Linked DNA regions of Homo sapiens: region 2 is linked to region 1. The links come from fine-mapping of genetic effects on gene expression. Tissue or cell type: cerebral cortex. Region 1 holds a variant in brackets; the other region holds the start of a gene. All regions are shown on one strand. Distances are from middle to middle.

What was found. PIP is the estimated chance that this variant, and not a neighbour inherited with it, causes the effect.
Region 2: it holds the start of NKAIN1, and the variant in region 1 is fine-mapped to the expression of NKAIN1 in cerebral cortex (GTEx, PIP 0.96).

Annotation. Positions count from the first base shown.
Region 1 is chr1:31,577,965-31,586,068 of GRCh38, reverse strand. It overlaps TINAGL1 (tubulointerstitial nephritis antigen like 1), which reads right to left. Exons shown (of 12, transcript NM_022164.3): 3 at 6,802-6,865; 4 at 2,828-2,920; 5 at 2,494-2,608; 6 at 1,268-1,391; 7 at 1,033-1,183; 8 at 729-918; 9 at 584-629; 10 at 193-316. Among named protein-coding and RNA genes, the nearest start is that of TINAGL1, 5.5 kb to the right of the region's middle. The variant C/G (reference allele first, on the strand shown) is at 3,689.
Region 2 is chr1:31,235,006-31,243,109 of GRCh38, reverse strand. It overlaps NKAIN1 (sodium/potassium transporting ATPase interacting 1), which reads left to right and starts at 3,223. Exons shown (of 7, transcript NM_024522.3): 1 at 3,223-3,616. The coding sequence starts at 3,563.

The DNA of each region.
Region 1 (8,104 bases):
CCTTCAGAGGCTCCCAACCTTCAATTCGACCCAGGGCAAGTCCTTTCTCTTTCTGAGTCTCAGTTTTCTCCCTATTGAAATGATGAGAGCAGTCCTGGCTTTTTAGAGAGGTTGTAAGAACCCAAGGCAGGCTCCAGAGCCCCTAGCACAAACCCTGCTGTCCCAAACCCCCTCTGCCCACACGCCCCTCACCCTGTGATCTTGACTGAGTGGGTCCCATGCCGGCGGTATCTCTCTGGCCTCCCAAGGCTCACTGGCGTGTGGCTGTAGATGCCTCCCTTGTATAGGAAGAAGTCCTCATGCACCTCCATGAGGGCTGTGGGCAGATGTCAAGGTAGGGTCCACTCAGCCCGTTGGCACAGGCACTGGAGCCTGAGTCTATTGAGATGTGCCCAGGCACCAGGGTCCCTCCATACCAAAGCTCTAAGTGCTCCCTCCAGGTGCTGCCTGTGGGAGGGGGGGACCCCTACTCCTGGCCCTACTGGACATGCTGCTGAATGCTGTGCAGGCCACTTGTGCTACTGTGCCCACTCTCAAGCAGGCACAAGCTTCTGGAACCAGGGTGCTGGATAAGGGGGTTTACCTTGGACAGGGCCATTCTCCATCAGCTCCTTCATGATCTCCTTGTCCTGGAGGGCAGGGGATGGACAGAGAGCATACGTCAGGGGTGAGACTCCAGGCTTTCACAACCCTCCTGCCTCGGCGCCCTCACCCAAGTGCTGACTTACGTTGGAGCCGAGGCGGTAGACAGGAGTGACCTGGTAGATGTCATTGTTATTAACATAGCTGTTGGGGCAGTGGGCAGTGGCCTGGCGCTTGCCCCGACCCATGGCTCGGCTGTGCATCATACAGGGGGGCGCAGGGCCAGCCTCGTCTCGTTCACGGCCCGAGAAGGGGTAGCAGTGGTCAGACACCACCCTGCAAAGGCAGCAAGAGGGAGCAAAGGCAGAAAGACTCAGTGCATCATGGCCCAGGCCATGCCCACGGAGCTCCTTGCCCTCTTCTCTGCCCACATCCCCTGTTGCTGCATACCCTCGGCGACGCAGGAACCACCAGGCACCATCGAGACGCCCACCGCGGCAGCCCTGCTGCTGGTGGGTGTCACAAGACAGCAGGTTCTGGGGCGACAGGACAGGCGTCATGTGTCCCAGAGAATGGATTGAGACACGATCGGATGCCACAGCTGGTGGGGTGAGATAGAGGGGCTGTCGGGAGGCTCAGGACTTGGCCCTCCTCTCCCAGGCGCCAGCCCTTGCCCTTGGCTTACCTGCTGTGGAGAAGGCCCAGGAGCCTGCACAGTTGCCTTGGTCAAGAGGCTCATGAATCAGGTTGGGCCACTTCTCAGAGGCCTCGAAGGCTGTGGGAAGCACCTCCCCTGGGTTCAGCACTGTCTGCAAGATAAAGGTTGCCCTGTCTGCCTCCTGCTCTGCCCTGGCCTGCCCCTCAGGTGCCCATTGGCACTGGAGGGCCACCAAGTCCAGGGCCTTCTGCAGTTTAATCTTGAGCCCTCCTGCTGCTGCAGGATTCCAGCTGCCTCCAATTTTGACTTGTGTTGAAGAACCAAGCACCATTTAGTGCCTCCCAGGTATCAGGTGGTGGGGCGGGGCGGGGTGGCGGTGGTGACTAGTCCTGCTTCCCAGATGAGGCAGCTGAGGCCAGGCACAGAGAAGTGGCCAGGCCAGGTCCCTCAGCTTTCCATTCTCAACCCCTGCCTCTTTCCTCTGCACCTTCTGATCGGCCTTAGCTTTCTTCAGGCCTTAGCTTTCCCTCAGGGGAGGGAAGAGGCAGTAGGGTCCCGTGACCAGGCAGTCTGCCAACACAAACAGCAAGAGGCAGAAAATAGCCAGAGGCCCAGGGGAATAAGGGCAGGGCCAGGGTCTGGTCACCCAAGGCCGAAGTCTCCGCAGGGAGGGCCACTCCTGCCAGCCCCTGCCTCCCCGCTGCCTGCCACTGATGGACAAATGCTCCGGCACATGTCCCGGTCCAGGCCTGCTGAAGCTCCCCTTCCTCACCCTTTCACTTTGGGCCTGGTTTTCATTCCTCTCCCAGAGGGTCCCACTGGTGGGAAGGGAGAAGCCCTCTCCTCCCTTGGGGTTCCGCTGAACCGGCATTTATTTCCGAGAACTGCTGCCCTCTGGCCAGAACTGGAGGAGTGTGTGTCCTTCCCTTCCCAAAATACCAAGGTGACCCCCTGTCCCCTTGGGCCCTAACCCAGCTGTACTGAGACCAACAGCATTTTTCCCAGGCTGGAGAGATCAGGGGGGAGCTGATGCCAAGACCACGAAATTCAATCTGAGCATCAGTTCTTCCAGCACAGCACATCCTGTGGAAGCAGGGAACAGAGGCCCAGAGAAGGGGAGTAACTTGTCCAGGGACACACAGCCTTGTAGTAGGGGATGGTCCAGGCCCTTGGAGGAGCAGGGCACAGGGCCAGCATCCCTGAGGTTCTGAGCCATGGGGAGATGGCAGCATTGTGGGGAAGGATGGACTTACATAAATTTCATGCATGTTCATGACCGAGGAAGATGGGCGGATGGTGCCCAGGCGGTAGCGAATGCCCTCATCCAGGGTCATGCCCCAGAAGGCGCTGTGGTTCCCAGCCTGCCAGCTGAAGGAGAGGGGACGGAAGGAAGTCACAGATCTGCCGAGGCTCAGGGTCCTTGGCGTGGGTGCATGTGGGTGGGAGAGACGCACAGTGGCTGAGCGCACACACAGTCAAATCTGGGTGTAGGAGTGGCCTGCTGGACGTGCCCCACAGCACAGCATGCGTGTATACATGCATGAGTATGCATGTGTGCCCACTGAGGGTGCCTCTAGGGCCTCTCACCCATAGTTGCCCTGGTTGATGGCTTTGATCATGTCTGGATCCACCAGGCATGGTTCTTGGTCACACTGCCACTGCCTGTTCTCCTGGCAGGTGCTGGTGAGAAAAGGAGAGAAGGAAAGGGTAAGTGGGGGACTGGGGATACTTTGAAGGAATGTGGCCTCGGAGGTTAACATGGGCCAGGGAGTCTGTGCAAGTGACTGTGGGAGAATCTCTAGGTGATCCCATCCAGCCTGGTGGCTTTAAATGTCAACGTCTAGTTCATGATTCTCAAGTTTATATCTGTGGCCCAGATCTCTGCCTGAACACCAGAGTCAAGGATCTCACGGCTACTCAACATCACTACCCTGAACCAAAACACTCCCTGAACCGAATTCCTGACCCCCCTCACTTATTCCCCCTACAGTTCTCAGAAAACGGCAACTCTATCCTTCCTGGAGTTTGGGCCCCAAACCTGGCAGTCCCCGCTGACTTCCTTTCCCATGCTGATCCAGTTCATCCGCATATCCTATGGGTCTACCTTAAAAATGCATCCAGAATCCGAACCACTCTCATTCTCTCCTGCAGCCCGCCCAAGTCCGATCACCTCTCACCTGGATTCCTGCTGTGGCCTCCTCACTGTGGGTGCTCCATGCATCTGCCCCTTGCCCTGCTTCCCAGGGTATTTTTAACACAGCTGCCAGAGTGACCCTGCTAAACCTAAGTCATATCATGTCGTTCCTCTGCCCAAAACCCTCCACTGGCTTCACATCACAGAATAAGAGCCAAAGTTTGGTGACAACAAGGCCCTGCACGCTCTGTCCTCCTGTCCCCTGATCCCCTCCTCCTTCAAGTTCTGGTTCTAAGGCTCCAACTAGGCTGGCC[C/G]CTGATGGTTCACACCAATCTGCCTGCTCCCCTTCCTCCCCGCTTTTTTTTTTGAGACAGGGTCTTGCTCTGTTGCCCAGGCTGGAATGCAGTGGTGTGATCTCGGCTCACTGCAGTCTCTGCTTCCCAGGCTCAAGTGGCCCTCCCACCTCAGCCTCCTAAATAGCTGAGACTACAAGTGCACCACCACACCCAGCTAAATTTTGCAATTTTTGTAGAGATGGGGTTTTGCTATGTTGCCCAGGCTGGTCTCAAATTCCTGGCCTCAAGTGATCCACCCGCCTTGGCCTTCCAAAGTGCTGAGATTTACAGGTGTGAGCCACAGGCCCGGCCTGTTTATATTGCTTATCCCTGTTTCCTCATAGGCTGTAAATTCCTTGAGGGCAGGTATTGTTTGGTATTTTCAGCGCCTAGGAAAACAAAGCCTAGCACATAGTAAGCACCCAATGAATATTTGTTAACTGAGTCAATGACTGAGGCCATATGCTGAATTGACTAAGAGCATGGGTTCTGGAATTCAGATTCTGGGTTTCAGCCCACTGGCTGTGTGATCTTAGGAGAATCATTCAAGCTCTGTCTCTCTCAATGCCCTTGTCTATAAAATGAGGATAATACAGTGGTACCACTTTCCAGGGATTTAATGATAGGCTTGTAAAGCATTTAGCACTGGGCCTGGTCCATCATTAAGTGCTCAGAATTAATATCTACTATCACCATTCTGTTACAGGAATCCCAGACCCCACTTCTCTAGAGCTTCAGACTCATATCCCACTGACCTTCTGACATCTCTGGATGTGCAAAAGGCATCTCAAACTCAAAATAGCCCGTCTGCCTCCCACAAGCCTGCTCTTTCCTAACATCTTCAACTCTGAAAATGGCACCCAGTTGTTCACATCAGAGCTCCAGGTGGTCTGTGGTGTCCGCCCACATGTCCCCCATCAGCAGGGCTTGGAGATGGCACATGAGGAATCCACCTACCTCTCGCCCCTCCACTGTGGCCACCCTACTCCCGTCCCTCATCACCTCTCACCTGGACCCCGGCACTGCCTTATTCACCAAGTCTGCTACCCCTTAAAATTCCCGGCCATCCCCTCCCTACCCACCCCAAAGCCAGAGAGATCTTTGAAGAACGTAAATCAGACCGTGTGCTCTCTACGTGGCTTCCTGTGACTCCAAACAAAATGCAGAATCCTGGGCACAGCTGATGTGAGCCACGGAACGTGGCCTGCACCTCCTTGGGACGTCTCTCCCCTACCCCAGCTCCAGCTAAAATGAGCTCAGTCACCTCCCGGCCTTCCCACGAGCCACTCCCTCTGCCTAGGCCAGGCCTCTCCTATCCTTCTCCCTGGTCTCAGCATAAATGTCCCTTCCTCAGAGTAGCTTTCCCACCCACTCCCTACTCTAAACTGGGACCCCCGTTATCCTCTCTTTTCCCTATAACACTGGGCAGCTTGTCAGAATATACTCATTTGTTGTCTTCCCATGCCCTTCACCTTACACTAGAAATGGGACAAGGACTGTGTCTGTTGCATTCCCGCTCCATCTCCTGAGCTCAGCATAGTGCCTGTCACGCAGTAGGTCTTTAATAATAGGTGCCGACTGAAGGGCTGCATTCTATGAATTCTATAATGCTTTTACAAGCTCATAACTCTGTTATTACAAGATGCTGAACTGCCTCCTTGCAAGCTGTCCAAGGCTCCCACCTCCAATGTTGCCTTTTAAGGAGCCTCAAGGGGAGCCAAGACCCAGTATGGCTGGGCTTTCCAGCCCCAGGAGAGGCGGGGGCACTGCTGGGGAGGGCCAGAGGAGTCTGCAGGGCCGGGAAGGCTTTCCTCATCCTTCCTTTCCCTCTCTGCACACCAGGCTGTTCCCCCTCTGCACACCTAGGCAGCAGCACCCGACTAGACTCTGGAAGCATCCTTTGAGGGCTCTGACACCCTGGACACTCCCCCACCCTCGCCCCCAGAGCCTTCATGAGGAGAGGGCAGTAGACTGTTCTGTCCTTTCCTGCCATCTCCTCCTTTGCCCCCAGGGCTGCCCACACAGGTCCAGGCAGGGCCGGTGGTAGCAGGTCCCAGCATTCCAGAGGGGGCCTAAGGGGCCAGGGACAGCAGTGAGAGAGAGAGAGACAGAGAGAGAGAGACAGAGAGAGACAGAGAGAGAGAGACAGAGAGAGAGAGAGAGAGAGAGAGAGAGAGAGAGAGAGAGAGAGAGAGAGCGCATTAACCCCTCAACGTCCAGAGCCATCCTATCAGAACCTGCAGACGCGGGCCAGGCATGTTTTATCCTTTTGAACACACACACACACACACACACAGTGCACACACAGTCACGCTGAACACCCAGACACATGCTGAAACGTTCCCTCCCTCACTGTGACCCGGGCACCCCTCACCCTAGTGAGGCAATGGAAATATCTTATGCGCAATGCATTCCAAAAAGTTTCCTTCTCTCTGGGGCCTCTTAGTCCCAGGCAAAGAGGGAGTGGGGGTGGAGTGGGTGCAGGGCCGCCTCCTCCAAGTCGCAGGCTCCCCATTATTTCTATTAAGGCTTTCAGGGTTTCCTACCTGGCCCTTCTCCACTTCCCATCTCAGACTGAATAGGGGGGTACCCATGACCCCTTCCTCCTCCTACTGGGAATGGTGGGGAGGGGTGGGGAAGGAAAAAGGGGCCACATTTCAGGGAAGGCCCTGCTAGAGGCTGGCTGGCCGCCCGCTCAGCCATCCCTGACCCTCATCCGCTCAGGGCAGCGGATGCTGCAGTCAGAGCTTTCCTTCCTGGCGCCCCCTTCTCCCTCTGACTCTGCAGTGACAGCAGGAATAGCTGGGAGGAATAGCCCAGCCCAAGCCAGGAGGGGTGGGGAAGGATCTCAGTTCAAGGGTGACCCCTGGGCCAGGCACCCATGGCTGGCCATGCTTGAGGAATGTTGTTGGAATGATGTTAGATAAGTTGACTTGGTCAGTGTTAAAATTCCTCTATTGCAGATGAGGAAACTGAGGTTCAAAGAAGGGAAAAGACTTCTCCCTTGCAAAAGGGGTCAGGGATAAGATTTGAACCAAGTCTGTCAGCCACAGGCTCACAAAGCAAGACCCCTCTAAGCTCCAAACACTCACCAACGGTTACAGTTGTCCCAGTACGTTCCCAAGACTGGATAGATACGACCTCCATGCATACATCCTGTTGGAAGGGAAGAGAAGAGAAGTGGAACCAGAACCAGAGAGGATGGGCTAATTGGCCAGGTCCTTGGAGGTCAGGTACCTTGAACCTTTCCAAGATTCTCTCTCTTTCTCTCTCTCTGTCTCACACACACACACACATACCAGCTCTCACTGAAATTAAACTATAACTGAAGACATCACACACACACACACACACACACACCAGCTGTCACTAAAATTAAACTATAACTGAAGGCATCACACACACACACACACACATACCAGCTCTCACTGAAATTGAAGCCAAACTATAACTGAAGATATCACACACACACACACACACACCAGCTCTCACTGAGATTAAGCTATAACTGAAGACATCACACACACACACACCAGCTCTCACTGAAATTAAACTATAACTGAAGACATCACACACACACACACCAGCTCTCACTGAAATTAAACTATAACTGAAGACATCACACACACACACACACACCAGCTCTCACTGAGATTAAGCTATAACTGAAGACATCACACACACACACACACACACACACACCAGCTCTCACTGAAATTAAACTATAACTGAAGACATCACACACACACACACCAGCTCTCACTGAAATTAAGCTATACTGAAGACAACACACACACACACACACACCAGCTCTCACTGAAATTAAGCTATAACTGAAGACATCACACACACACACACACATACCAGCTCTCACTGAAATTAAACTATAACTGAAGACATCACACACACACACACACACACACACCAGCTGTCACTAAAATTAAACTATAACTGAAGGCATCACACACACACACACACACATACCAGCTCTCACTGAAATTGAAGCCAAACTATAACTGAAGATATCACACACACACACACACACACCAGCTCTCACTGAAATTAAGCTATAACTGAAGACATCACACACACACACACACACACACACACACACACCAGCTCTCACTGAAATTAAACTATAACTGAAGACAAATCCTGCAGGGTCACACACCAACTGCTGTTTGGGAAGTTCTTCAATGATTCCAACCTGGATTCCTCTTACTTTACTTGGATGCCAGCCACAACATTCCTGGGATCCTTTTCCATTTAAATAAGTTAGGGCTTGGAGATGGGGAGTGGGAGGAGCATGGGGAAGCCAAGGCCCAGAGAAGGTAAGCAACCGTCCTAAGATAACACAGCACTCTTGAGATGACAGCTCAGGTATGCAGTCTGCCG
Region 2 (8,104 bases), 340 kb after region 1:
ATGCAGTGGCACGATCTTGGCTCAGTGCAACCTCCGCCTCCCGTGTTCAAGTGATTTCTCCTGCCTCAGCCTCCTGAGTAGCTGGGACTACAGGCGCCTGCCACCACATCAAGCTAATTTTTTGTATTTTTAGTAGAGACAGGGTTTCATCATGTTGGCCAGCCTGGTCTCAAACTCCGATCTCAGGTGATACACCCGACTCAGCCTCCCAAAGTGCAGGGATTACAGGTGTGAGCCACCACGCCCGGCCAAAGAGACCCACCTTAAAGTCCAGGGAGAAGACACAATTGGCTTCATGGGCATGTGACCTCTGCAGTCACACAGGACCCTGCATGTTTTGTTTTCTGTTCTTTGTTTTTTTGAGACACCGTTTCACTCTGTCACCCAGGCTGGAGTGCAGTGGCACAATCTCAGCTCACTGCAACCTCCATCTCCTGGGTTCAAGCAATTCTCATGCCTCAACCTCCCAAGTAGCTGGGATTGCAGGCACATGCCACCACGCCCAGCTAATTTTTGTATTTTTTTAATTTTTATTTTTTGAGATGGAGTCTCACTCTGTCACTAGGCTGGAGTACAGTGGCGTGACCTTGGATCACTGCAATCTCCGTCTCCTGGGTTCAAGCGATTCCCCTGCCCCAACCTCCCTAGTAGCTGGGATTACAGGCATGCACCACCACGCCTGGATAATTTTTTGTATTTTAGTAGAGATGGGGTTTCACCATGTTGGACAGGATGGTCTCGATCTCCTGATTATCTGCCCGCCTTGGCCTCCCAAAGTGCTGGGATTACAGGTATAAGCCACCACGCCTGGCCTAATTATTGTATTTTTAGTAGAGATGGGGTTTTGCCATGTTGGCTAGGTTGATCTTGAACTCCTGACCTTAAGTGATCCGCCTGCCTTGGCCTCCCAGAGTCCTGGGATTATAGCGTAAGCCACAGCGCCCGGCCCCCTGCATGTTCTTGACTTCACGCTCTGCTGTGTTGCCATCTTGAAATTCTTAATTTTTTTTTTTTTTTTAGATGGAGTTTTGCTCTTGTTGCCCCAGGCTGGAGTGCAGTGGGGTGATCTCAGCTCACCACAACCTCTGCCTCCTGGGTTCAAGCAATTCTCCCACTTCAGCCTCCTGAGTAGCTGCGAATTACAGGCATGTGCCACCACACCTATCTAATTATTTTTTGTATTTTTAGTAGAGACAGGGTTTTTCCATGTTGGTCAGGCTGGTCTCGAACGCCTGACCTTGTCATCTGGCCAGGCCTCCCAAGTGCTGGGATTATAGGCATGAGCCACTGCGTCTGGCCGAAATTCTTAATTTTTTAACAAGAAGTGCTGCATCTTCATTTTGTGCTGGGCCCCCCAAACTATGTAGCCAGTCCTGGAAGAAAACAGTGACACATTTATTTGCATGCTTACTATGTGAGCAGCAAACAAGTGACAGTGCTGGAACCGGGACCCAGGCCGTTTGGGTCCAAAACCACGGGTCCTAACCTACATCTTACCATACTTCCTGTCTCTCGAATCAAGAGGGCTAGTGAGAGTGGAGAGGAAGGGAAAGAATAAGAACCTTCTGTTTCTTCCACCAGAACACTCTTCACTCCCCTGCCTCTCCTTCCTTCCTATTGTCGTCTCAGTATCAGTTTCGTTTCCTCAAAGAGGTGTTTCCTGGTCCCCAAACCTAAATTATGCCCCTCTCATTCTCTCTTTTCTCCCTTAGTATTTTATTTATTATTTATTTATTTTGACAGAGTTTCGCTTTTGTCGCCTAGGCTAAAGTGCAATAGCATGGTCTTGGCTCACTGCAACCTCCACCTCCCGGGTTCAAGCGATTCTCCTGCCTCAACCTCCTGAGTAGCTGGGATTACAGGTGCCTGATACCATCCCTGCCTAATTTTTGTATTTTTAGTAGAGATGGGGTTTCACCACGTTGGCCAGGCTGGTCTCGAACTCCTGAACTCAGGTGATCCACTCACTTTTGGGAGGCCGATCTCCACTCAGGTGGAGGTTGCAGTGAGCTGATTCAGCCTCCCAAAGTGCTGAAATTACAGGTGTGAGCCACCGTGCCACGTTTCTTCTTTAATATTCTTTAGAGTATTCATCAGAACTTTGCGTATTTATTTGTATATTTCCTTGTTTTAATGACAATCCCTCACTAGACTGTGTGCTCAATGAGGGCAGAGATTTTGTCGGGTTTTGTTCCCTTATCCCCAGCAGAGAACCTGGCACATAGTGGGTATTTCATAAATGTTAGTTGGAAAGTACAGTTTATAGAATGTAGTGACAGATCAGATGTAATTGTAGGGAAGCCTGGAGGATGACCTAGGAAATTCCACTTGGGTGATGCTAATTGCCAAGGTGAATATAGGAAGTTAGGAGTGGGACAGGAATGATTATGTGGATTTGAGATGTGTCCAGTTCGAGGGCTTTTGGGGGTGGCTTGGAGAAGGCAATCTTCTGCTGGGAAACTTCTGACTCTGTCCCTACTGCAGCCCAGGGTAGGGGCTCCCTACCTCCACCTGGGCAGATCTCTGCCATCACCCATCTCACTGGCGTGCTCTTGGGAGCCTATCTGTTCCCTGGGCGGTGCAGCTCTACGGGATTTGGAACAGTGTTGCAGGTCTCATCTCTGGCTCGCAGGGCCCCCAGGGGTGTGTATGCAGTCAGGGCTCAATAAATGCCAGTAGACGGAAAGAAGGAAGGCGAAAAATGTGGCCAGACACTCAGGGGAGAGGCTGGGGTGAGGAGCAGATCTGGGAACGTAAATAGAACTAGAAGTCCAAGTTGGAACCCTGGAGCCCTAGAGACAGGGTGGACAAAAAAGTGTTCCAAGCCAGGAGGCCAGGCACAGGGCTAAGCGCTTTATTCACATGACTGCATTTCATCTTCATATCTACACTAAAGAGGCATAATTATTCCTACTTTGTTCATGAGAAAACAGGTCCAGAGAGGTGACGTGATTTGCCCAAGGTCACACAGCGAGTGAGCAGCAAAGTCTGGATTTGACTCAGGGCTGTTGTCCCCTAAGCCCGCACGCACTCTTCCACTTCACTCCCTGCCTCTCCAACCCTCCACCTCCCTATCCCTCTCCCCTCCCCTCCGGCGGCTCCCCCGCCCCACCCCTCTGCCGTTCCCCCCAACTCCCTCCCTGTCGGTGGCGGCGGCGGAGCCACGTGGTGGGGCCGGGAAGCCGCGGCCGACGAGAGCCCGGGCGACTGCCCCAGCTGGGCAGTGCTGCTCTGCGCTGCGCCGCGCTCGGGGCTCGCTCTCCTTGCTCCGCGCTCCCCGCCAGCCGCCCCGGGGCAGGAGGCGCGCCTGACGGACGGCCCGCTAGACAAAGGAGGCGCGGCTCGGCGGGGCCAGCGCGCGGACGGACGGACCATGGACTCGGAGCGCGGGCGGCCGGCCCCAGCCTTGGGGACCGGACACTCCCGGGCCCGGCCCTAGGCGCCCGGCCCCGCCGCCCGGCGCGCCCAGCGGGGAGGACGTGGAGCCCGCGCGGCGCGAGCAGGCGGCGGCCGCGGAGCAAGAAGGGCGCCGCGGCGTGCGGCCCGCGCAGCCCCCGGAGCCATGGGCAAGTGCAGCGGGCGCTGCACGCTGGTCGCCTTCTGCTGCCTGCAGCTGGTAAGCGTCGCGTGCCCAGGCAGTCGGGGCAGGGTGGGGCGCGGCGGGGCGCGGTCCCAGGGCGTGCGGGTGGGGTTGCGTGTGTCTCTGTGTGTGTGTCTGGTGCGTGTGCCCGGGCGGGGGGTGGTCTGGAGTCTCGGAGCGGTCGGGCGGAGCCTGCTCCCGCTGGCCGGGCTGTCTCTTTGTGTGCGCTTCTCGCTGCTGTGCCCGGCGCTCCTCCGGTCCCCAAGTGCGTCCTGTGCGCGAGTCCCCGGCCCGCCCGCACTGTACAAGTGGCCTCCTGTTGGGGGATGCGCTGTGGGACGGTGGCTTGCTGGGACTGGGGGTGTGTCTGAGGCTGATCTGTGGATCCGTTGAGGTCCTGCTGTGTGTTTCCCTCTAGATCCCTCGTTTGCATGGGTCTCTCCCTTCCTCTGGGTCTCTGCCTCTGATCACCACCCCTGTGTGAGCGTTTCTCACAAAGTCTCTGCTCCGGCGTGTGTCTCTCAGGGTTTCTCTTTGGTGTGTCTCTAAATCGCTGACCATTTCTGGCCCATGTTCATCTGTGTTCTGGGATCTTAGACTCCAAGAACCCTCCAATCCTTTGTGTTGTTTCTGCCTCCCTTCACCTTCCTGACCGGGCAGTCCTGGGAAAGGAGAGCCACCTCCCTGGAGAGGGTCACCAGGAGCTGCCAGATCCTGGGCCAGCCTGACCCAGCCTGGACCACACTTCCTGCTTTGGTCTGGCCGCTGTGGCCATGGGGGTTCCATCAGTCATCAGTTCCACCCACCAGAGCAGCTCCTCTGCCGGGGCCAGCAACAGTGGGGATGGGGACACTTGGGTGCCCTAGGGAGGACCAGAGCATCTGAGGACACTGTGCCTAGCCCCAGCATAGGGAACTCAGGTTCTTGTCTCAGGGAGGAGTGACTGTAGTGGACTAGAAGAAACAGCACTGCCCTTCAAATCAGGCCCTGGCAGGGGAATTTGGGAGGGTGGTTAAGGAGAGGCAGGGGTCTCCTACCTACCCTAGAGCTGAGATTGAACAACTAGGGAGGTTGAAGCTGTGCTTCTCCTCTAGGCAGAGGTGCATGGGGACCTCCATCGCCGAACCCAGGTCTGAGAGTGGGCAGCGAGGAGCCTGAGCCCCCCTCATGCTGGACTCCTTGTTCTGGGTTTCCACTCTTGCCTGCATCCATCACGCCCTCCCCACCACAGGAGCCAATGATAATGTAGAGTGAAGTTTTGAGCCTGGACATGCAGACCTCCTCATTCGTCTTGCTTCTCTCCTCCTGGGGACACCAGCTTCAAACATGCCATCCACAGACCTGGCCTGGGCAGTGGTGGAAACAGCCCTAGCTCTGGAGATTGTAGCCCTGCTCCCAGCTGTGGGAGACTGGACAAGTGACTTCCCCCCACTGGCCGGCCTCAGTCTTCTTATCTGTAAAATGATTATCCCTGAGGATTGCAGAGGGAATTAATTAAGATCAGGTGGAATGGGAACTCCAGAAGGGCAGAGATTGTCTGTTTTTCTTTATCTACTTTGAGGAACATGAAATGCCAAGAAATGTTTAAACCTTTCAGAGGATTCTTCTGTGTTTGTTAATTTTTTAATTTTAAACTAGGGGTTTTTTTTAATTAGAAAAGTAATATACATATATTGTAAAAAATAAATACATACATAATCAAACAGGACAGATAAATAAAAAGTAAGTTTTCTAGGCCAGGCATCGTGGCTTATGCCTGTAACCCCAGCACTTTGGGAGGGCGAGATGGGCAGATCACCTGAGGTCAGGGGTTCGAGACCAGCCTGGCCAACATGAAGAAACCCCATCACTGCTGAAAATACAAAAATTAGGGGTGGTGGCACGCATCTGTAATCCCAGCTACTCGAGAGGCTGAGACATGAGAATCACTTGAACCCAGGAGGCGGAGGTTACAGTGAGATGAGATCACGCCGCTGCACTCCAGCCTGGACGACAGAGTGAAACTGTGTCTCAAAAAAAAAAAAAAAGTTTTCTTCTCTCTATAACTAGACCCCTCCCCAAAGGTGAACCTGTTAGCAGTTTGTCCCATGCTCATTCTCTGTTGGCGATAATAACGGTTAGCTTTGGAGAGCCCTTGACTAAGTGTCAGGTACTCTTGGAAGCACTTTTCCAGGTATTAACTCATTTAATCCTAACAGCCCTATGAAGTAACTTGTCCAGAATTCTACAGGAACTAGGACCCAGGCTTTGTTTTGGGGGTTTTGTTTTTGTTTTTGTTTGAGACATGGGCTCACTCTGTCATCCAGGACAGAGTGCAGTGGTGCAATCATAGCTCACTACAGCCTTGACCTCCCAGGCTCAAACAATCCTCCCACCTCAGCCTCCTGAGTACCTGGGACTACGGGGGCACACCACCATGCCTAGCTAATTTTTTTGTGTTTTAGAGGTGGGTCTCACTCTTGTTGCCCAGGCTGGTCTCAAACTCCTGTGGTCAAGCCATCCTCCCACTTCAGCCTCCCAAGTGCTGGGATTATAGGCATGAGCCACCACATCCAGCCAGGATCCAGGCTTTGAATCCAGGCAGTTGGCCAGGTCCTCTGTTGCCTTCTTAATTATAAAATAAGTAGTTCTGGCCCTGGTAAGTCTGGGGCCCCATGGAAGGAGCTCATGGCTCTAGAGAGAAATGAAGGTGGTAGAGTGTCTCTCTGCCTCCCACTTCCCTTCCTCCATAGTTCTCCCTTGCTAAGCTAACCCCACTCTTCCACTTAGAGGAGCTCACCAGCACTAGAGGCTTGAGTTAGATGAGACCTGGGTGGCATTCTGGTTTCTCCCACATCCCGGCTGGGTGGCTTTGGGCAGCTTGTGAAGGTTGCACAAGATCATTTGCGGGAGGAACTTGAAAATTGCTCTCTTGGCTCTGTTGCACTATCTGGGCTCATTGCAGAGTGGGCCCTCCAGTTGTCACTAACCTCCATGAGCCCCTACTGCCTGATAGCTTCCATAATGTGCCCCGGGATGTTGGAATTCACCAGCCTGAGGGGAGAAGGGAGTCTTGGTTTTCTCATCCAAGGGACTGAAGGGAAAAAAGAGGCTGTTAAATATCTTTCAGCTGAAAACTTAGGAGGAACTGTGTCATTTTTCTTTCTCAAATGGAGTTTAATCGTTACAATGAATCAGGCCAATTCGAAACATTCTTCCTCAGTTGGGATAGATGTGATTTGGGTGAGGGAGTGAGGTGTGAGGGTGCCATGGGGTTTAAGGGAAGCAGGTAGGGACTGTGCCTTTCAGATGGATAAGTGTAGGATAGTAGTTAAGGCTCTGAAGTTTGACAGGACAGACCTGGCTTTTAGACCTGGTTCTGTCACTTCCTGGCTATGCAATTTTGGGCAAGTTGCTTACCGTCTCTGAGCCACATAGTTTTGTCATCTGTTAAATAGAGAGAATATAAAACAGTTCCTAATCCTTAGGGTTGTTGTGAGGACTCAGTCCATATAATGAATTTAGCACTCTGGCAGGTACAGAGTGAGTACTCATTAAACTGTAGCTTATTGTTATTATCTTAATGATTCATATCATGGGATGTGTCTGTGGCACTGTAGCCCAAACATATCCAGGTGACCCCCTGCACTGTCCTTTGTGGACTGTCCTTTGTGGGAAGTAGCAGGTAGTTGGGCACTGAGCTGAGAGGCAAAAGACCTGGATTTAAGCCTGGCTCTGCTTCTGACATCCTGCAATTTGGGGCAAGTCTCTTCCACACTCTAGGCTTTGGTTTTTCCATCTGTAAAATGGGAGGCATTATTGGTCTGGCTCGCTGGGATCCTGCCAGCTGTACTTGTCAGGAACTCAGGGTGGTGCCTGGACTGGCATGTTTTGTTTATTTATTGTTTATTTTTTAGAGATAGGCGTCTCACTGTGTTGCCCAGGCTGGAGTGCAGTGGCAATCATAACCCACTGCAGCCTCAAATTCCTGAGCTCAAGTGACCTTCCCACCTCAGCCTCTCAAATAGCTGCAGCCTCAAATCCCTGAGCTCAAGTGATCCTCCTACCTCGGCCTCTCAAATAGCTGGGACAACAGGTGCATGTCACCACACCTGGCTTTGGCATGGCAGTTTTGTTGCATCTTGATCCGGTTCCTTTCTGTAGAACATCTTGGGTCCCTTGCTTTCCAGAATTCTTTTTGGTGTATCATTTTGACAACATTATTAACATATTCACCCTCTAATTTTTAATCCCGTGCCTTTTCTCTCTCCTTTCCAAACCCAGCTCTTCCTTGTTCACCTCCTTCCTGAAACCTTACAGGCCACTCTGTTCTTCCTGGAAGGGGATGAACCAGTGAGATTTGCCCTAGGGAATCCCCATCAATTTCTTCATCATCATCATTATCATTCCCATTTCAGGAGTCCTGTGCTAAGCACTTTATATGCATTACCTCATTTAACCAAATGAGCATACATATGTAAAGTGCTTGGCAAAGTGCCTGGTGCATGTTAAATGATCAATAAACGTTAGCTCTTTTACTGCTTT